Linked DNA regions of Homo sapiens. The protein of the gene in region 3 interacts with the protein of the main gene of each other region in a pairwise test. Each region holds a gene or a part of one and is shown on either strand. Other genes may lie near its edges.

Evidence for each region.
Region 1: the proteins of WDR12 (region 3) and BOP1 interact in binary tests that used the Homo sapiens proteins (3 or more experiments, as listed by UniProt).
Region 2: the proteins of WDR12 (region 3) and PES1 interact in binary tests that used the Homo sapiens proteins (3 or more experiments, as listed by UniProt).

What each region holds. Positions count from the first base shown.
Region 1 is NC_000008.11:144,274,379-144,281,482, reverse strand, and holds part of BOP1 (ribosome biogenesis protein BOP1), read left to right. Parts: intron 1-5,178; coding exon 5,179-5,259; intron 5,260-7,104. UniProt on the Homo sapiens protein: Component of the PeBoW complex, which is required for maturation of 28S and 5.8S ribosomal RNAs and formation of the 60S ribosome.
Region 2 is NC_000022.11:30,588,871-30,596,857, reverse strand, and holds the start of PES1 (pescadillo homolog), read left to right. Parts: upstream 1-4,947; 5' UTR 4,948-5,024; coding exon 5,025-5,048; intron 5,049-7,587; coding exon 7,588-7,667; intron 7,668-7,987. UniProt on the Homo sapiens protein: Component of the PeBoW complex, which is required for maturation of 28S and 5.8S ribosomal RNAs and formation of the 60S ribosome.
Region 3 is NC_000002.12:202,894,659-202,901,762, reverse strand, and holds part of WDR12 (ribosome biogenesis protein WDR12), read left to right. Parts: intron 1-643; coding exon 644-738; intron 739-2,125; coding exon 2,126-2,232; intron 2,233-4,347; coding exon 4,348-4,463; intron 4,464-5,543; coding exon 5,544-5,698; intron 5,699-7,104.

The DNA.
Region 1 (7,104 bases), on a different chromosome or scaffold from region 3:
AAAGTGAGAGAAGGCCGAAGACCTGGTATTAAACTGAGAGAAGGCCAAAGACCTGGTATGAAAGTGAGAGAAGGCCGAAGACCTGGTATTAAACTGAGGGAAGGCCGAAGACCTGGTATTAAACTGAGGGAAGGCCGAAGACCTGGTATTAAACTGAGAGAAGGCCAAAGACCTGGTATGAAAGTGAGGGAAGGCCGAAGACCTGGTATTAAACTGAGGGAAGGCCGAAGACCTGGTATTAAACTGAGGGAAGGCCGAAGACCTGGTATTAAACTGAGAGAAGGCCAAAGACCTGGTATGAAAGTGAGGGAAGGCCGAAGACCTGGTATTAAACTGAGAGAAGGCCTAAGACCTGGTATTAAACTGAGAGAAGGCCGAAGACCTGGTATTAAAGTGAGAGAAGGCCGAAGACCTGGTATGAAAGTGAGAGAAGGCCTAAGACCTGGTATTAAAGTGAGAGAAGGCCGAAGACCTGGTATGAAAGTGAGAGAAGGCCGAAGACCTGGTATTAAAGTGAGAGAAGGCCAAAGACCTGGTATTAAACTGAGAGAAGGCCTAAGACCTGGTATGAAAGTGAGAGAAGGCCGAAGACCTGGTATTAAAGTGATGATTCCAGATTTTTTTTTTTTTCTGAGACAAGAGTCTGTCTGTCACCCGGGCTGGAGTGCAATAGCCTGATCTCAGCTCACTGCAGTCTCCACCCCCCAGATTCAAGCAGTTCTTTCTCCTGCCTCAGCCTCCCGCTGTGATTACAGGTGAGCGCCACCAAGCCCAGCTAATTTTTTGTATTTTTAGTAGAGACAGGGTTTTCCATGTAGGCCAGTCTGGTCTCGAACTCTTAACCTCAACTGATCCGCCTGCCTCGGTCTCCCAAAGTGCTGGGATGACAGGTGTGAGCCACTGGGCCCGGCCTTCCCAGATAATTTAAGGAGAGTTTGGCCTGTGCCGGAGCATAATGCACACTCTTGGGCAGGGGATCCCGCCAGCGTCTCAGCGAAGGCTCTGGGAATGGCAGGTGGCAGGCCGCGTTGCTGCAGCGTGGGAACCCTGGGCTCGGGCCCCCTGTCGCTGTGGTTCTGGGGTCTGGGTGCTGGTGCCGTCTGCTGGAGAGTGGTCTGGAGCTGCAGCTCTGTGGAGTCTGGAAAGGGGCTGCCCAGTGATTCTCACCAGCTGGTCAGTGGTGGAGAAGTTGCCTGGGTGTGGACCACAGAGCTGGGGATGGAACCAGGGGCCAGGGCTGGTGGTAAACTCCGCTCTTGCCTCTGCCTGTGGCCTTGCTTTGGGTTCTTTTGAAGACTGCCAGCTCCAAGCTTCTTGGCCCCCATGGGGGAGTCAGGCAGCTGTTCTGCCACCTGCCCTGACACTTTGCAGCATCAAACAGATATTTTGTAGCATTCTGGATTCGAGGGGTCAGAGTTCAGGCCGAAAGCAGCAGGGTCAGTACACCCTGAGTACAGTGTCATGCTGAGGGGCCGGGGAGCCCCAGAGGGTTCTGGTACATTCCACCTGAGGAAGATCGACACTCAGCTCACATCCTGTGCTCTGGGACTTGGGTGAGGATCTCAGGTGAGCACAGCCGGGCCTCTTGTGTGTCCAGACCGCCCCTGACAGCCATGTTCACGAAGGGTACCCCTGTCCAGCTGTCCCCTCTCCCAGGGCTCAGGGCTGCAAGGACGTGGTCTCCTGTGCCAGGCAGAGCCACACGGCCTTCACGACCTCAGCCCAGAATCCTGTGGTGTCAGTGTGGGCTGCCTCCCTTGGGTGGGTAAAGCAGCCACAAGCCCACCCAGATTTGCGGCGGGGGGGACATAGACTCTGTCTCTTGATGCGATGAAAATCAAAGGTTTGTGGCCGTGTTTTAAAATGGTCACAGTCACCCTTACGCTTGCCAAATAGTCTCTTCCCCCAGCGCTCCCCAGAACCTCATTCCACTGCCAGGGTCTCATCTAAACCAGGCCTGATAGATGGGGGTCCTTGGGCCCCTCTCTGCACAGCTGTCTGCAGTGGGGCACCGAGTCACAGTGCTGTGGAGTGGTCTCTGGTCTGTGGTGGTCCTAAGGTGGCTGAGCACATGGCTGGTGGTGGTCTTGGCCATGGTGGTCTTGGCCCGTGGTGGTCTTGGGGCCTGTGGTGGTCGTGGCCCATGGTGGTTGTGGCCTGTGATCGTCAGGGCCCATGGTGGTATAGGGGACCTGTGGCAGTTGTGGCCTGTGGTGATCGTGGGGCCCATGGTGGTCTTAGGGCCTGTGGCGGTCGTGGCACGCAGTGGTCTTGGGGCCTGTCCTTGAGACCCATGATGGTCTTGAGACCCGTGGTGGTCGTGGCCTGTGGTGGTCTTGAGGCCCATGGGGGTCATGGCCCATGGCGGTCGTGGCCCGTGACGGTCATGGCCCTTGGTGGTCATGGCCCGTGGTGGTCTTGGGGCCTCTGGTGGCAGCACACATGGCCAGTGCCTCATGCAGGGTTGGCCTCCATGCCTGGGAACGACCCTGCCACTCTTGGGCTCCTGCCCCGAGTTACCTTCCTTTTCCCTGAGTAAAAAGGGATGTTTTTCGGCTGTATTTTCTCTGGGCTTTTCAGTTCCTGCTGATGTACTTTCTTTAAAACAAAATGTGGGTTTCCTAGGTACCTGTTGATGAGTCGTTGCTGTCACACGAGCCATCGGCACAGAGCTCTTGGATAGCAGCCTGTCTCTGTGCTGGGCACCCTGCGGCTAGCGTGGGCAGGGCCCTAGGGAGCCTTGGCCGTGCTGAGGTGCTGGGTGTGGGGTCTGTGGTGCAGCGCTGGGTTGTCTTGGTGTCCTTGGCACCCCGACAGCGATGTTCTGGCTCTGGTCTCTGGGCAAGTTAGGACTGCTTCCCTCCTGCTGTCCACGTCTCCAGCAGAACCCTCTTGTGGGCAGCCCTGGGAGCAGAGTTCTCTTCCCACCGAACCGGGACACCGCAGCTCTGTCGCCATCCTCTCCCAGGAGGTGAGGGCAGAGCCCGTGTCTCATGCCTGGTTGGTGGCAGTGGGGCACGGCCTGGCTGGCCTGATGCTGGGGAGGGGAGGCTCTGGTGTGGTCACAATAGGGGGCTCATGCGCTTGGACACCGTTTCTGTCTGGCTGAGCCCACTGTGGGTTTCTCCCTTTGGTCCTCATGGTGACATTCTAGCCCTGGGGCTGGGCAGAGGCCACGCAGGGTTCAGGGACTACAGCAGCCTTTCCTTGGCCCCAGCGGCCCCGCATCCTGCTGGCACCTCGTCCTTGCGCTCCCCCTCGGCGGCTCCCTGCCCACCCGTCGGTCCTTCAGACCCGCCTGCCTCTGCCCAGTGGCGCTCGCCCGCCCACTCTCTCAGCTTTTACTTCACCCTCACGCAACTCTCGTGCTCCATCGGGCCCGACCCCTCCTCAGTCAGGCCACGCACACTGCGGGTGGTGCTGGAGACCCTGGAGAATCCGGGCTGACTCCAGGCATGGGCGTGGCGGGAGGGGGTCCTGTCCCCAGGAGTCCGGAGCGTGGCGTGGGCTCATGTTCCGTTGTCTGTGTCGTTAGGGTTTTGGTGGCCTTTTCCTCTAATTTTTAAGTTAAAAAAAATACGTTCAATGCCCCACAGCATCTGCCTCCAAAATCTGAAGGGGCCTTCTAGGTCAGGCAGTTCCCAGCAGTGGCCGCCCCTGCCCGCACCGCCCCTGCCCGCACCGCCCCTGCCCTTCGGGCGCTGGGCCTGGCTGAGCGCCGTCGCCCCCTGGTGGACTCTGTGCCCCACAGCTGTCCCACGGGGATGCTGCGCCCCTGGGAACCCAGCACCTTCGAAGGCCACCTCTGCCCCCTGCCCAGAGCCTGCCTGTGCCGTGGCCTGTCCACATCCAGCACAGGGGCCACGGGGCACAGAGCGCTGGGTGACAAGTCTTTTGTCACCTGCCAGGACCCTGGGACTGCGGCCCATGAGCAGCGAGGCTGGGACTCCAGCGTGCGGTGCTTCAGCCCCGGCCACTGTGAGGGGTCGGGAGCCCAGCCCGGTACCCGTCCGCAGAGGCCAGGCGGGGGCAGCCGACCGCAGCCGGGTGTGGAACTGCCCTTGTGCGCGTCTGGGGCTTGGGGCCGGGGTCACGGATCTGCTGCGGCTGTGGGGGCTCATGTGCTCCAGGCAGGGGCAAGAGCTCCGTGTCACTGAGCGCCCCAGGCCACTGTCAGCAGCAGGGGGAGACGTGGAAACTGAATCCTTCCTTGTTCCTGGCCTGGGAAAAAACTTAGTCTCCCATCTCTCTTTATATTGAAGGAAAAAACAGGCAGGGGAGGAGCCCGGGCCGGAGAGAAGAGGGGCTCGGGGTGGGGGCGGGGGCGTGCCCGCCTTCGCTCTGGGGTTCCTGCGCCCGAGCACTTTACTGCCCCCACGGGTGAGAGGTGGGCCTGTTTTCCCCATCAGCCTTGGTTCCGCCAGTAAACCCGATCCGGTTGGAGCCATCCTCACCTCCGCAGTCGAGGGCAGAATCTGTTTTCCAGGTTGGGATGTGAATTCTCAGTGGCGCCCACTCTGTGACCCGGCGGGATGGGGTCAGCCTGGGCTGTGGACGTGGTGGGTGGGAGAACGCTGGGCAGGCCTTCTGAGTGTTCGGGGCCCTCTCTGGGCCCTCTGCTGGCTGGACTGGGCGGGACGTGGCCCCCGGGATGGGTGGACAATGTGTGTCCCCCGCCCCTTCAAGAGCATTGGCCCCAGTGACCCTGCTGCGACGGCTGCGTCTCCTTCTTCCCCCCGACCATGCTGCCCCCGTCCCAGGCGGGGCTCGGCAGGAGCGCCATGTGGGGCCCCTGGGAGGAGTCCTGTGGCTTTGACATGAATGGGGGTACGGGTGGTTGGCGGTGGGTCTTGGTCCTCAGCTGGCGGCTTTGCTCCTGACTGCCCCAGTGGCTTCCGTGTCTAGCCTGACACCCGTGTCAGCCCAGGGACAGAGGCCCCGGGAGGCTGCAGTCCAGCCCTCACAGAGGACAGGGCCGTGGGCAGGACCTGCGGCGCCGGGTGCCAGCCACAGCCCCCAGAGGCCCCCTTAGAGCTGGGTGTTCTCGGCCTTGTGCTGAGGCCTGTGCCAGGCTGGAGCTGCTCAGAGATTTCGGGGTGGTGGGCTTCCTGGGATCCCCCCAAGGTCAAAGGGTACCCTGTATCCCCTGAAGTGACCATTTTCTCTCTCTCTCTGCAGGCCAGCACTCCTTGCCCGAGGACAGAGATGGCGAGCGCCCGGATTGGGGATGAGTATGCGGAGGACAGCTCTGATGAGGAGGTAGGACTGGGGCTGCTTCCCACTGGGCAGGGTGGGGCGGCTTCCATCACAGCCTAGCAGGTGCTGGGGGTTGGGGCTGGGGTTGCCCTGGGGGTGCTGGGACCTGCCGCAGGTGGGCCGCACTGTTGGAGCCGAGGCCCACGTGGGCGTCCTGCTTCCCCATCTGCAAGAGCAATTTCGGGGTCTGGGACACAAGACTGCAATGTATGTGTGTCATCATGGCTTGTGAAGGGGAAGGACCTGGGTGTGGCTCCATGCCCCTGTGTCTGGCCTGTGGACGGGCTCTGGGGGCTCCTGTGGCGTCTGCAGGGTGGCTGTGGGCTCCCTGGGCGTGGCGTGCATGGTCTGGGTGGGGGTCATGGTCGGGGTGGGGGTCACGGGCATGGGTGGTGCCCCTGTCGTGTGTGCTGTGGGGTGGGCCACAGGTTGGCTGGGGGCCAGGCGGGCAGAACAGGGCCAGGGCCACCTCCTAATGTCCTGATGTTCTGGGCAGTGGTGGCCCTTCCCTTCCCCTGGGGTCCCCCTGCCCCCCACCCCTGGTGGTGGCTGATGTGGGCTGGGGCCGTTGCCTCTGGACCTCTGACTGAGTCCCAGGAGCACATCTCAGGAGGGGCAGGAGGTCGGCTGTTTCTCATAAGGAGCTTGCAGGCGAAGGGGGATGCGTGCTGCTGGGCTGGGCTCCACCAGCGTGGAGAGGCTGGCACCGGGCTGGGCTCCGCCAGCGTGGAGAGGCTGGCACCGGGCTGGGCTCCGCCAGCGTGGAGAGGCTGGCACCGGGCTGGGTTCCGCCGGCGTGGAGAGGCTGGCACTGGGCTGTGTCCAAGAGCAGATTTGGCTGCGGGGGGCTGCCCTCATTTGGGAGGGGCTGGAAGCTCTGAGAAGCTCTGAAGCCAGAGGCAGTGCCTGCCTATACCCTCCTCAGTGTGGCCTGGCCCCAGGGTAGGACTGTGGTCCCAGTGGAGCACCTGGGTGTGAGGCAGAGTCTCCTTTGGGCCCTGGGGGCTGTGGGGGAAGGAGAAGGCTTTGGTGTAGGGCCTTCCTGAAGGAGCTCTTCCTGCCTGCCTGTCAGGAACTGTCCCCGGGGGGCCTGGGGGAGACACGCGCCCCCCTCCCCCCAGGTTCTTCCCCCATCCTTCGGCTCTCTTGGCTGTGGCTGCAGGAGCCTTGGCCGCCCGCCCGATCCGGTCTCTGCTGCGCGTTCAGAGAACAGAGACAAAACAAAATAAATTGGTTTCCTGGCCGGAGCAGCGGGCTCACTCAGAGCGGGGGGGCCACGCCGCGCACTCCCTGCCTGTCTCCCCTCCCCCTCCCAGGGGCTCTGGCTGTCGGCAGCCACATCCTGTCGGCTACTTTTTTATATTTGGTATTTTGAGAAATCGATGATGATTGTAAACGGAGCGCGGAGGCCGGGGGAGGGGCCTCGGCGGGGCCTGTGGGACCCTGCTGCCCCTGGGGGTGCTTTGCCAGGCCTGTCCAGTGCCACCGCCGCCTGCCGGGTGGGCAGCCCCCTGCTGTGCTGGGAGGAAGCCGGCCAGGGATGTGGGGGCTGCTTCCTCCAGTGATGACTATCCCATATGTTGGTCTGAGTGACAGCGAGGGAGCCCGGGTGCTGCCCGGTGCTCCTGCCAGCACAGCCGGCCAGTGGCTCGAGGGGGCGGCAGAGCTCAGCTTTCAGGAGCCAGGCCAGGCCCGGACAGATGCCTCCCGTCCAGAGAAGTGCGCATCTGCCTGGGCCTCTGTTCCCTTGGAGCAAAGTGGGGTGGCCCTAGGGGAGTGATTTGGGGCCACAGGTGGGCAGGAAAGAGGCTTGGGAGGTGGGAGACAGCCTGCAGCTCTCCCATGAGA
Region 2 (7,987 bases), on a different chromosome or scaffold from region 3:
CACACCTCCCCGCAGGCTGAGGGAGCCGGCTCCGGCCTCAGCCAGCCCAGAGAAGGGCTCCCACGGTGCAGCAGCGGGGCTGAAGGGCTCCTCAAGCGTGGCCAGAATGGGCGCCGAGGCCGAGGAGGCACTGAGAGCGAGCGAGGGCTGTGAGGGCTGCCAGCACGCATCATCTCTCAGTACTACAGAGTCATCGGTTTATAAAAGATGGTTGGGTCCAAATTATTTTTGACAAAACTGGAACTTGTTTACATGGCTAAACTTTATTTATCCTAATAGGTAATCTAATGGAGGCTGTGAACCAAAATTTTGGGTAGTTTCCATGGCAGTTTGATTTTTAAAATCTTTTTTTTTTTTTTTAAGTTTTAAATGGGGCCAGGCATGGTGGCTCATGCCTGTAATCCCAGCACTTTCAGAGGCTGAGGCAGGAGGACTGCTTGAGCCCAGACGTTGGAAACCAGCCTGGGCAACATAGCAAGACCCCATATCCATATACACACGCACACACACACACACACTTGAAAAAACAATGAGTTTAGGGTTAAATTTTTAATGCTTATATTTTAGCTGGAACCTGGCTGAACTATATAGAAAAAATCTCCAGGTAGCCTTGAATTAGTAACACTGTAAAGAGTTTTATCTCAACACCAGTAGAAAAGTCAACAGACTTAAAGCAGGTAGAAAAATAAAATAGAGAATGTAGAAGACTCTACATGTTAACTCTGTAACTGCAGGTTGACCATTTGAGCTCTGAATTTTCCTTGATGTAATTTGCCCACCAGTTTAAAAATGTGCACAAAAACGGGCTATAATATGTAGCCAGCTAGCGTCCCAAAAAAGCTAGCATGTCTTTGAACTTTCCATGTGGTTTTTAAACATGTAAGCCAAAGGGTTCCTGAAGGTGGTTGGCTAGAGACTGTCCCGTTAGTACTAAGCACCCCCTATAATTGCACTTCCCTTACCCAGGTGACCCTTTGAGAGTACTCTTAGCATAAGCACCCTCACAAAATCTACGAATCAGCTGAGTTTGACCGGATTACACCTCCACCCCTGCCGGTAAGCCCAGGGTCCACAAAATGTTCCCTCCGTGGTCTGAATGGAGGGAATCAGGGAGGCCACCTTTAAACCCAGGGTTGACAAAGACATTCCTTGCAGGGTCTGGATGCAGGGAACTGGGACCAGGCACTGGGAAGGACTGGGAAGGCCCCTGCCAATGCAGGGCTGACAGGGGAAGGTTCCCTCCAGGGTCCACCAATGATGGGAACCCAGCTGGGAAGAAATAAAGTCTCCAAGATCTTTTTTTTTTTTTTTTTTTTTTTGAGACACTGTCTCACTCTTGTCGCCCAGGCTGGAGTGCAGTGGTGCAATCTTGGCTCACTGCAACCTCCATCTCCTGGGTTCAAGCCATTCTTCTGCCTCAGCCTCCTGAGTAGCTGGGACTACAGGCAAGCACCACCTTGCCCGGCTAATTTTTGTATTTTTAGTAGAGACGAGGTTTCACAATATTGGCCAGGCTAGCCTCGAACTCCTGACCTCGTGATCCACCCGCCTTGGCCTCCCAAAGTGCTGGGATTATAGGCATGAGCTGTCGCGCCCAGCCAGTCTCCGAGTTCTTTAACCTCAAGCAGGAGATCTTGGATTCTGATAGGACTTACCCAGACCCTTTCCCAGAGTGATCAGGAGCAAGGGGACTTTGTTAAAGAGTCCTTGTTGGTGCCAGGCATTGTCCAGGGCAACAGGAGGAAACAAATCTGGGGTGACTTTAGAATCTCACTCTCATTATGAGATATGTTAACTGAAAAATCATGAGAATCTATAAATTTGGACAGGAGACTTTTTATTTATTTGTTTGTTCGTTTGTTTATGTAGAGAGCCAGTCTCTCTATCACCCAGGCCAGAGTGCAGCGGCGTGAACACACCTCACTGCAGCCTCAACCTCCTGAGCCCAAGCGATCCTTTTGCCTCAGCCTCCTGAGTAGCTGGGACCACGAGTAGCTGGGACCACAGGTACACACTACCACACCAGCTAATTAAAAATAAGTTTTCCTTTTGTAGAGATGAGGGTCTCACTATGTTGTCCAGGCTGCTTTCAAACTCCTGGGCTCAAGTGATCCTCCCCACTCAGCTTCTGAGTAGCTGGGACTACAGGAACCTGGCCCTATGCCTGGCTGTGTTTTTTTTTTTTTTTTAAGGCGGGGCACAGTTTAGTAGAGACAAGGTATCACTATGTTGCCCAGGCTGGTCTAGAACTCCTGAGCTCAAGCAATCCTCCCACCTTTGCCTCCCAAAAGGCTAGGATTACAGGTGTGAGGCACCGTGCCAAGCTAATTTTTTTTTTCTGAAACAGAGTCTCTCTGTTGCACAGGCTGCAGTGCAATGGCACAATTTTGGCTCATTGCAACCTCTGCCTCCCAGGTTCAGGTGATTTTTCTGCCTTGGCCTCGCTGGTAGCTGGGATTACAGGTGTGCATCACCACGCCCAGACAATTTTTGTATTTTTAGTAGAGATGGGGTTTCACCATATTTGCCAGGCTGGTCTTGAACTCCTGACCTCAGGTGATCCACCCACCTTGGCCTCCCAAAGTGCTGGGATTACAGGCGTGTGTCACCATGCCCAGCAAATTTTTGTTTTAAATGAAACAATGTAAACATACTTAAAGCAACAACTACTTTATGCAGTTAGTGTTGACCCCATCTTACAAATGAGGAAGAGAGGTACCCTGAGGTAAAGTGGCTTGTCCGAGGCTTAGAGGTAAACCAGGTGTGTCTCCCTGCAGAGACTGGGCTTTTCACCGTAATGCTGATGGAGGCTTGGTATTGCACAAAGCATTCTGTGTGTGGGCAGCCCTAATGGTTAAAAACCTCTTCCCTTTATGGAACAAAAATCTACCTGGCATTATCCTGGAGTCACATAACATTCTTTCTACTATACGTTAGGTAGTGGAATGTGAGTTTAGCAGAGGACTCTGAAACCAGACTGCTTGGTGAGAATCTATTCTGCACAGCTTAGCAGCTGAGTGATCTTCAGCGATCACTTACTTTCCTGAGACTTAGTTTCCTCCCTTGTGAAATGTGGTACCTATATGACGGCTATTTTGAGCTGAAATTACAATTGCTTCCCTGAACATCCCCACCTGTGTCTTCCAGTGACCCCTCAACATTAATGTGAGCAAAACAAGGCTCAACTTTCTGCAAACATGGTTCTATCTGTGCAGGACGAGCTAGGTGATTTGTGAGGGACAGGGTGAGATGACTGCCCAGGCCACATGCTCACGACACCAGCCCTGTTCCTGTGTTGCCCTCATGAGCCAGCCACTGCCACCCTCTCCAGTCCATCCCTTTCCTTCTTCTTCTTTTTTTTTTTGAGATGGAGCCTCGCTCTGTCGTCTAGGCTTGAGTGCAGAGTGCAGTGGCACAATCTTGGCTCACTGCAACATCTACCTCCTGGGTTCAATAAATTCTCCTGCCTCAGCCTCCCAACTAGCTGGGGTTACAGGTGCCTGCCACCACACCCGGCTAATTTTTGTATTTTTGGTAGAGATGGGTTTTCGCCATGTTGGCCAGGCTGGTCTCAAACTCCTGATCTCAGGTGATCCGCCTGCCTCAGCCTCTCAAAGTGCTGGGATTACAGGTGTGAGCGACCGTGCCCGGCTTCATCTCATTTTTAACTGTGGAATTGCTGGGTTTTAAATTTTAGCTTTAAATTAGATAGTGCAAGTCACATAGTTCAAAACAAGTATTCACCAGTGCTTAACGTCTGTCTCTGTGTAAGTTCTAAGACCAAGTCCTTGGGCCAGGTCACATTCACAAGAGCCTCAAATTTAAACTTTTGAGATCATCTTCGAACGAAATTTGGAATTTGGAAAAAGGGAGAAACGTTTAAAAAAAAAAAAACCTCTTAAAATTGCATCTACTTCCAGACTGCACCATCTCAAGGTGATGTGACTATTTGTATAAATCTTGGAATTATTATTTGAGGAACACTTACAGAATTTATGTGTACAAATTAAAAGCTCGAATATGTTGAATGTACATTTAATTTTATTTATTTATTTATTTTTGAGATGGAGTCTCACTCTGTCGCCCAGGCTGGAGTGCAGTGGCAAGATCTCGGCTCACTGCAACCTCTGCCTCCCAGGTTCAAGCGATTCTCCTGCGTCAGCCTCCCGAGTAGCTGGGATTACAGGCGTGTGCCACCATGGCCAGCTAATTTTTGTATTTTTAGCAGAGACGGGGTTTCACTATATTGGTCACACTGGTCTCGAACTCCTGACCTCAGATGATCCGCCTGTCTTGGCCTCCCAAAGTGCTGGGATTACAGGCGTGCGCCACCGCTCCCAGCCTTGAATGTACATTTTAAATATACCACGAGTCCACCACTAAGGCTCAGAAAATATAAGTGGCCTCTAGGATCTCTATACCTCCGCGAGGAAAAATGTCTTCCTTTTTTCTATTTTAGCCGCATAACCGCGAATGAACCAAAGAGAACCCGAAGCCGGTGGGAACTCAGCGCAGTCTCACCCTGCCCCTCGGGAACCGCTTCTCAGCAGCGGCAGCCGAAGTCTGACGACGCTTAGCAACCGTTACCTTGACAACGCAATCCTATCGCGCACCATGGAGTGCGGCGCCCCTCTGCATCCCAGAAGGCACCGCGCTGTCCCTAAGCCTTCCGCCCCTCTCCGTCCCAACATGCAACGAGGCTCACAGTCAATGAATCGTCATCAGGGTGATTACAGAAAAGCCTGTATATCCACGTTTGTTTTAACACTTAAAGTGTTTGTAACCATTGTGAGCGGGAAAGATCTGGAAAGAGTGTTCTCAGTGATTTTTTTCAGACTATAGTTTTAAATCTTGAGGAGGAAATCCCCATCTTTCCCTGGACTTGTACAGGCATCTCATTGGGCAGCCCGCACAAACAGACAGCGTGGGGTGGGGAGGGTCCTCGGGGTCCTTGGCAGGGCACGTGCGGGAGGAAGTGGAGCTCCCTGTACGCGCGGCCCTAGTCGGCTCCTCAACGTGGAGCGATGGGAGGCCTTGAGAAGAAGAAGGTGATTGGGAAAGACGGTGGGGATTCCCGAGGGGTGGGGTGCGGGGGCGGCAGAGCATGGGGTCGACTCTTTTCCCGGGCTCCGTCTCGTGGAGACTGGAAAGACGGGATCGACGTGACCGTAATCAGCTGCGAGAAGGGGTCCGAGAATGGACAAGGATGGCAGTATTCGTTTAGTGAAATCCGAGAACGAACTCCAGAGTTCTTTCTGTGGAGAGGGCTGTGAAAGAGAGTTGAACTTACCAAGCGTAGCTTCATTCCAAAAGCAGGCCGAGCCGTGGGACCACTATTTACCGAAAGGGTGATAAACATTACGTAGAGCTCACCGTTACTGCACCGTTACATTAGTTGGTTAGTGTTGTCTTGGAAGTTCTCTTCGAGGCATAACATTTCGGCTGAAATGGGAAAGATCAGAACGTCTTGGATGGGTTCTGGGGCATGGGAGTGCTTAGCGAGCAGGCCTGACAAGGGAAACCAAGTGCCAAGATCAGTAGGCAGGGAAGGCTTGCTGTGTGTAAGGAGTTGGAAGGACATTAGGATGACTCGCATGTAAACCAAGAAAAGAATGGCATCTGATAAGATTGGGGTTGGACACGTACTGTATCGTGCAAGGCCTGTAAGCTTGGATTTTATTCTAAGTGCAGTAGGAATAGTGTAGAGCTTGGATTTTATTCTACGTGCAGTAGGAAAAAAAGGAGGAGTAACACGATTAGAGTTTTTCAGGGAGTTCTTGTGGCTGTATGGAGAATCGGCCCAGTGACATGAAAAGACTGGGAAGGGAATGGGAATGAGGAATATATAGTTGGCTTAAGTGTTTCTTTCAGAGTGAAAGTTTCTATTGCCAGTGTTCTTAACCCAACACACTACATTGAGTATCCAGTGCTAGCCATCGGAACTGCAAAGATACAAGATGGAAAACCTGCCCTTGAGTTGCAGATGTAGATATGTAACAAAATCGTTACAGTTTTTAAAAGCTGGGTTTCAGAGCCAGAATCAACAAAGATGAGTCTTTGTTGTGGGAAGGATTGTCTTGTGTGTAGTAGGATATTTGGCAACATCCCTGATCCTTTACCTACTGGATACCAGTAGCACCCAGCAACCAAAAATGTCTCCAAACATTGCTGAACTCTCCTCCCCCCAGCACATACCCAGGGAGTACCCCATTGAGAACTATTTATTCCCTTAACATTTATAAGGATAAGCATGGTGACAGAGATAAGTGTGGCATAAGGTAATGGAAAACGCTATAAATGAAAACTCAACTTCTTAAGGCAGTCTGAAACTCATCTTTATACCTCCAAGACTTAGCATGGGCCTAATACCTAATAGACAATTAATGTCTAAAGGAAAGAATGAATGAAGGGTATGTTTCATGACTATGATGTTATTAGTAAACGTACCTGTGGGAGACTAACAGGTTTGTCTCTTTAGAGCTGAACCTAGCCAAAGAGGCCCCTGCTGTCTTAGTCCAGAGGAAGATCTTGTTTGGAAACGACATGCTTGTTAGCTTGCAGGGTATTTGTTACAGTGCACTGATTGTCTCTATCGAGGGATACAGAAGTGTGAGGGATACAGAAATGTGGGTGTGAGGCAGCATCTTAGCACCACAGGCATCCAGATGGTTATACAAGACAATAGGCTTCTTAGGGGCAGGTAGAGACCAGGCTTTTTGTCTTTATTGCCTTCATAGCATCTAGCTTAGTGCTTTGACCATAATAGAGGACCTGTTATTGTCTGTTGAATGAATGAATGAGGAAGGGGAGAAGCTGTGTGGCTTAGAGCATGCTTTTTCAGCCAGGGTAATACCACCCTCAAGGGAACAAAATTGGTTGAGGGGCAGTATCTTAGCTATTACAATGGTTGTGGCTCCCCAAGGACTACATTACATAAACAGACCTACAGTATATCTCTGGTATTAACATTTTATGGGGCATAGGGAAGAAAGGGTGATGGGTGAGGGAGGAAGGGGGTGTCTAATAAGTCTCCTGGTAGTGGTGAAGAGGTTATAATGAGGAAGAAAAGAAGGGGAAAAGATTAGGAACACTGGCTTAGCTATTAGGCATTCAGGTACTGGACTCAGACCTGAGTTTGAATCCCAGCCCCAACTCTTAAAAAGCTGTGTGCTTTTTAAGAGTTGCATGGGTTATTTTACGAGCCCGTTTTCTCCTATGTGAAATGGACGTTCGGACAGCACCTACATCACAGGGTTATGGGAATTAAATGAAATGTGTGAAAATCACTAATTGTAATGGCCAACATTTAGAGCTAGTGCTAAGCACTTGGCACAGCACCCTATCCGTAGCAGCCTCGCAGCCCTCAGCATCATGCAGATGTATGTGTTCCCTATGCTGACAGCCGCAAGGATGGTACAGGAGAGCTCATCCAGGCAGGTCGGCTCCTTCCCTGCAGTGTTTCCTCTCCTAGACTCATCTCAGCCACTTATCCAGAGTGATAGTTGCCTCTGGAACTAGGCATGCCCAGAGTTTGATGTCAGTCACTACAATCATTGCTAATGGAGAATTGTTTTTTTCCTCTCCCAGTATGAACGAGGCTCGGCCACCAACTACATCACCCGGAACAAAGCCCGGAAGAAGCTCCAGCTGAGCTTGGCTGACTTTAGGTGAATATAGAGGGACCGTGGGAAGCCCGGGCAGTGAATTGCACATTGAAAACTCAGCTGCATCCCTGTCTTACCTGAGTTGCCATACCCATTCTGGGGTTCTGGTATTCCTTCTCTTTCTCACCGCCCTTGCTTTAGTGAGTTGTGTTTGCTAGGTGTGGTCCAAGGGAAAATGGAGGAGAACTGAACTGGATTGTCAGGATGGGCTAGCTGGGCTGGGATGGGCTGGGCTGGGTCCCTGCCATCCATCCCCTCCTATCTGGTAGAAGAGACCCCTGATCCTGCAACTAGGGGTTCTCATTCCTCATAGAGTCAAAATA
Region 3 (7,104 bases):
CTTGGAGATGGAGTCAACAAAACCCAGAATGTTACAAAACAGATGACCCACTTTCATCAACAAATACATGGCAAGGAGAAAAAGGAGGAGGAACTGTTAAAGATTAAAAGAAACATTAATCAAATATAATGTATGGATTATGGATGCTGATTTTTGAAAGCTCACTGTAAAAGAACATTGACTATTTGATGTTAGAAGGAGTGATTGTTAAATTTTAAAATATTGTGACAAATTTTTGAAGTCCTTATATTTTAGAGATACATACTAAAGTATTTACAGATGAAATGATATAATTTCTGAGATTTGCTTTAAAATAAACCAGCCGGGGAATGGAGGGTGGAATATAGATGATGTCCCATTAGTTGGTGGATGTCAAAATGGGCAATAGTGATGAGATTCATTGTTATTTCTACTTTTGTGTATGTTTGAAATAATAAAAGTTTTCTAAACCAAAATAATTACACCAACAACAGTAAAAAGACATTATACTAACAGAACAAAGTATTTCTGATCTTAAAAATCACAGAGAAACTCAGGCCACACTGGGATAATAGGTACCTGTTTGTTTTGGGAGTTCTCATATACCTCTGCCAATATTACTTTAGACACTAAGAGTGATAATTTTGTTATGTATTTTCCTCAGAGTTCCACAAACATGTGGAGTTTGATTTCCTTATTAAGGGCCAGTTTCTGCGAATGCCCTTGGACAAACACATGGAAATGGAGAACATCTCATCAGTAAGTTCAAATTCTTATCTTCTGTATTTCACTTGAGGCATTATCGGCTATTGTAGGTAAACTCCTTTTAGAATCACACTGAATCTATCTTTAGTAGCAAAGATTCTTTTTAATATATTGGCTATATATGTTGTGTGTGTTATGTATTGTGTGTATATTTTATGTGTGTATTGAATATATATAGTGTGTGTGTATATATATATGTATATTCCTGTATATTCAATTTTGAAGCCCTCTTTTTTTGTGAGAGTGTTTTATTCAAGAAATAAATGAACACATTCTTTATATTTGTGGAAGAACTGGCAAGAAAGGGAATAGCAAATATGTGTGTACAAATACTGGTGCACAAAATAACTGGGCAAATATAAAAACTATGGGTTAAGTTACTGTTATTTTTCCCTTTTATTTTCAAAGTTTCCTTATATTGCTTTTATGATTAAAAATATAACTTATAATTGTTGCTTGTTTTGTGATTTTAAAAATTGTGGTAAAATATACATAACATAAAATTTAGAATTTTAACCATTTTTAAGTATACAATTCAGTGGCATTAAGTGCCTTTGCAGTATTATGCAACCATCACCATTTTCCAGAATTGTTTCCTTATCCTAAACAGAAGACCTGTACCCATTAAACAATGTGCTTTTTTTCTTAATTTTAATGTTTTCTTTTATCTTCTTTTTTTTTTTTTTTTCTGAGACAGAGTCTCCATCTGTTGCCCAGGCTGGAGTGCAATGGCACAGTCTTGGCTCACTGAAACCTCTACCTCCTGGGTACAAATGATTCTTGCGCCTCAGCCTCCAAAGTAGTGGGATTGCAGGCATCTGCCACCACGCCTGGCTAATTTTTGTATCTTCAGTAGAGACAGAGTTTCACCATGTTGGCCAGGCACATCTTGAACTCCTGATCTTAGGTGATCCACCCGTCTCGGCCTCCCAAAGTGCTGGGGTTATGGGTGTGAGCCACTGCACCTGGCCTAAGGCTTTCTTATATTCCTTTCCCCCCCATTTGCAGCATAAGTTGTACAAGGCGATTAATATTTCTTCTTTTTAAAATTTTTGTTAGGAGACAGGGTCTTGCTTTGTTGCCTGGGCTGGACTTGAACTCCTAGGCTGAAGCAGTCCTCCTGCCCCAGCTTTCCTAATGTTAATAGCTGGGACTACAGGTGTGAGTCACCATGCCAAGCTATTATTTCCTAATATCACTCTTAGCTTACAGTTAGGTCAAATAAAGTTCTTGACTTTTTGAATGGCTCCAAATTTGCTGAGTTATAAAGGGGACTAATATGAAGGATATAAAGGAGATATATTAAATTGGGGGTTATCTTCATAATGTAATATTTTAAAACTAGACCACCTGACTTGTTGCTGGTTTCTCTTGTGATTAGGAAGAAGTTGTGGAAATAGAATACGTGGAGAAGTATACTGCACCCCAGCCAGAGCAATGCATGTTCCATGATGACTGGATCAGTTCAATTAAAGGGGCAGAGGAATGGTATTGCCAGATTAATGCCCTTCTCTTTTTTTTGTTTTGTTTTTACCTCCTTCAGTCTTTTTAAATCCATATATACATATTTTTCTGTGATTTAATGTTATTTGTAAATTAATTTTGTGATCTCTGTATCAGTGGCCATGGCAAACAGAAAGATCTTTTCATTCAGTGTCTTCAAGAAGAAACAGGTGGCTGGGTGCAGTGGCTCATGCCTGTAATCCCAGCACTTTGGGAGGCCGAGGAGGGTGGATTACGAGGTTGGGAGATCGAGACCATCCTGGCTAACATGGTGAAACCCTGTCTCTACTAAAAAAGTACAAAAAATTAGCCGGGCGTGGTGGTGGGCGCCTGTAGTCCCCGCTACTTGGGAGGCTGAGGCAGGAGAATGGCGTGAACCTGGGAGGTGGAGCTTGCAGTGAGCTGAGATGGCCCCACTGCACTCAAGCCTGGGCAACAGAATGAGACTCTGTCTCAAAAAAAAAAAAAAAAAAAAAAAAAAAACCACAGGTATTTATTAATAGGTACTCTTTTTCTGTTCTGTTCAATATGTGGTAGTAACAATTATTGTTGCCTTTTTTTTTTTTTTTTTAAACGGGGTCTCTCTCTCTTGCCCAGGCTGGTCGCAAACTCCTGGGCTCAAGCAGTCCTCCTGCCTCAGCCTCCTGAATAGGTGGGATTTCTCTACACCCAGCAATATTTGTCTTCTGAATAAGTCATGTATCTTAGAGCATTTAATTTATTTGGTTCGATTATGTTGCTTTTAAGACCAAGGATATAGTTTGTTTCATAAAGGAAAAAAGTAACTTTTATAGCCATAGATCTCCTGGCCTAATACCTTAAAGATGCATAGCATACTATTTTAGGGCTAGAAGGAGCAGACTGGACTCAGCAAAGAAGGTACAGATATCTTAGGGCAAATCCTCACTGGCCTTACTTGTAGGAAAACAACTCAAGAGTAGATTATGGTAGGAGCTTCTTTCAAAGAATGCCTTCTTGGAGTTATTACATAAAGTTATATTTCTCCTAGTTTTACTTTTAGTTTAAATGGTTTTCACTGGTTAAGTACAAAATACTTCAGGTGGACAGCCAGGCGCGTGGCTCACGCCTGTAATCACAGCACTTTGGGAGCCTAAGGCAGGTGGATCACTTGAGATCAGAAGTTTGAGACCAGCCTGGCCAAAATATTGAAACCTGTCTCTACCAAAAATATAAAAAATTAGCCAGGTATGGCGGTCTGTGCCCATAGTCCCAGTTACTCGGGAGGCTGAGGCAGGAGAATCACTTGAACCCAGGAGGCAGAGGTTGCAGTGAGCTGAGATCGCGCCACTGCCTTCCAGCCTGGGCAACAGAGCAAGACTCCATCTCAAAAAGAAAAAAGAGTACTACAGGTTGGGTATTCCTTATCTGGAAATGTTTGGTACCAGAAGTATTTTGGATGTAGGATTTTTTTTGGGTGGGGGTGGTTTTGGAATATTAACATATACATAGTGAAATATTTTAGGGATGTGATCCAAGTCTAAACATGAAATTCATTTATGTTTCATATACAGCTTATACACCTAGCCTGAAAGTAATTTTATACTATGTATATATATGATATATATTTTTTATATATATATATATATTTTTTTTTTTTTTTTTTTTTGAAACGGAGTCTCGCTCTGTCACCCAGGCTGGTGTGCAGTGGCGCAATCTCGGCTCACTGCAAGCTCTGCCTCCTGGGTTCACGCCATTCTCCTGCCCCAGCCTCCTGAGTAGCTGAGACTACAGGCACCCGCCACCATGCCTGGCTAATTTTTTGTATTTTTAGTAGAGACAGGGTTTCACTGTGTTAGCCAGAATGGTCTCGATCTCCTGACCTCGTGATCCGCCTGCCTCAGCCTCCCAAAGTGCTGGGATTACAGGCGTGAGCCACCACGCCCAGCCATGCCAGGTATTATTTTTAGGAGGTTGAGAAACGTCAAGTGATCTGATCTAGTATGGCTTGAAATCTCAATCTTCATATCAAAAAAGAGTTTAAAAGTATAATCCTCAAAGTTACTTTGTCATTGCCAAAGAAACATTTCAGGGTTTGGAAAAACTGCTTTTTGTGTTTCATAAGATTTTTTTTTCTCATAGGATCTTGACTGGTTCTTATGATAAGACTTCTCGGATCTGGTCCTTGGAAGGAAAGTCAATAATGACAATTGTGGGACATACGGATGTTGTAAAAGATGTGGCCTGGGTGAAAAAAGGTTAGGACAGTTTGCCTACACTTAGAGGAATCCTAGATAGGGATTTGGAAATAAGCCATTTTTGGTGCTGGGGAAGAATGGGGAGTGGGTGGGAAGTATCTCATACCTCAGTTATTATGAGGTCTTTCAAAAAATACAGTGTTCAAGAAGAAAAAGATTATATAAAAAATTCATAAATTGTTAGAAGTGTATCTTTATTAAAATTACATCAGATAATATACATTTTCAAGTTAATATTGAATGTATTACATTCATCTTTTATTTTCTTCTGTTTTTGTTTGTTTGTTTTGTTTTGTTTTGTTTTGTTTTGTTTTTGAGATAGTCTCGCTGTGTCACCCAGGCTAGCGTGCAGTGGCATGATCTCGGCTCACTGCAACATCCACTTCCCAGGTTCAAGCGATTCTCCTGCCTCAGCCTCTCGAGTAGCTGGGACTACAGGCACCTACCATCACGCCTGGCTAATTTTTGTATTTTTAGTAGAGACGGGGTTTCACCATCTTGGCCAGGCTGATCTCGAACTCCTGACATCATGATCCACCCGCCTTGGCCTCCCAAAGTGCTGGGATTACAGGCGTGAGCCACTGCACCCAGCCTGTTTGTTTGTTTTTTGAGGCAGAGTCTCACTCTGTCGCCCAGGCTAGAGTGTAGTGGCTCCATCTCAACTCACTGCAACTTCCACCTCCTGAGTTCAAGTGATTCTCCTGCCTCAGCCTCCTGAGTGGCTGCAATTACAGGCGCCTGCCACCACACCCGGCTAATTTTTATATTTTTAGTAGAGGCAGGGTTTTGCCATGTTGGCCAGGCTGGTCTCAAACTCCTGACCTCAAGTGATCTGCCTGTGTTGGCCTCCCAAAATGTCAGTATTTACAGGCGTGAGCCACCACACCCAGTCATCGTCATCTATTTTTGAAGAATCTTTTCTTTATACCACATCAGCCTTTTAAAACCTGGCCATATGAGTTATCTTTTTAACATCTTTTTCAATAACAACAAAAAAATTTAGTTCTTTGGTTTCAGAACATGATGTATTCTAAATGGTATACTGATTTGTTTCTTATTCTTGTGTTCTCCTTTCTCCAGATAGTTTGTCCTGCTTATTATTGAGTGCTTCTATGGATCAGACTATTCTCTTATGGGAGTGGAATGTAGAGAGAAACAAAGTGAAAGCCCTACACTGCTGTAGAGGTCATGCTGGAAGTGTAGATTCTATAGCTGTTGATGGCTCAGGAACTAAAGTAAGTAGCTAGAATATTATTAGTACTCTGTTAAATTTGAATTTGAGCTTGTTGCTAAACATTTTCTTCTGCATATATTCATTGTGTTGGCCTAGTTTCCTAACAATCGGTGACAAAAGATAGGATTTCAAAGCAAGAGTAAATACTCATACAATAGGAGATAGTCACTTGCTCAGTTTGAATCCCTGGTTTAGAACCTTATATAAACTCCAGAAATTTTAAGAAATGAGGTATGGGCCGGGCGCGGTGGCTCACGCCTGTAATCCCAGCACTTTGGGAGGCCGAGGCGGGCAGATCACCTGAGGTCAGGAGTTCAAGACCAGCCTGACCCACATGGAGAAACCCTGTCTCTACTAAAAAAAAAAAAAAAAAAAATAAGCCGGGCATGGTGGCGCATGCCTGTAATCCCAGCTACTCGGGAGGCTGAGGTAGGAGAATCACTTGAACCCGGGAGACAGAGGTTGCAGTGACCGAGATTGCACCGTTGCACTCCAGCCTGGGCCCAACAAGAGTGAAACTCAGTCTCAAAAAAAAAAAAAAAAAAAAAGAAAGAAATGAAGTAAACAAGCCATTCATTTATATAACCTTCTTACCTCATAGTAATTGACATATTTCCAGTCTATATCAGCTACTCTTAAGTGCTGTCATCAACTGAAAACGCCTAGTTGATAGTCTGAGCATTAGCATACACTAAAGTTAGTGCTAATAGAGTTTTACTATAGTATCAATCTACTCTTTATCATGACAAAATGGTAAAAGTTAGTTAAAAGGTAACAAACCTGAGGGCAATACCATATTGATTTATTAATATGAAGGGTTATAAATCCACTTAGAATTTGAAAGTTTCCTAAGCCACATTGAAGTATTCTGGACTTAAGAGTGTTTCTTTGACAGTTAGGGTAACAGGATGCTTGTATTCAAAGGTGAAGATTTATGATTTTTCATATTGAGCCGAAAAGTTTTATATGTTGTTTAGTCCAAACTTTAGTGGATTAACTGTACCTCTTCTTTTTGGTTAAGGAGAGATAGAAACTCAACTTGAACTTATTTAACCTTAAAAGTAAATGGATTGTGAGATCCAAGGAAAGATTGAACAACCACATCACAAGAAGGGTAATGGTGCATTTGGGCCTCAGGAACCAGTGGAATAGAGGCTTGAATGTGGTCCGCACACCCTCTCGCTGTCTTGTCCCTCAAGTTGACTTTATTCTCTCTCACTTCAGATTGGCTTTCTTCAAAAGACATGGCAATAAGCTTGGCCTTCAAGATTTCCCAGATTTTATGTTCTGTCCTATCTGCCCCTGGAAAAAGGCTAATTTCAGTTCTGTGGAACACAAGTTCTTTGAAAAGGTCCTGAATGAGGAAGAGACCTACTGTTGTAGGCAAATAATATGAATCATATTACA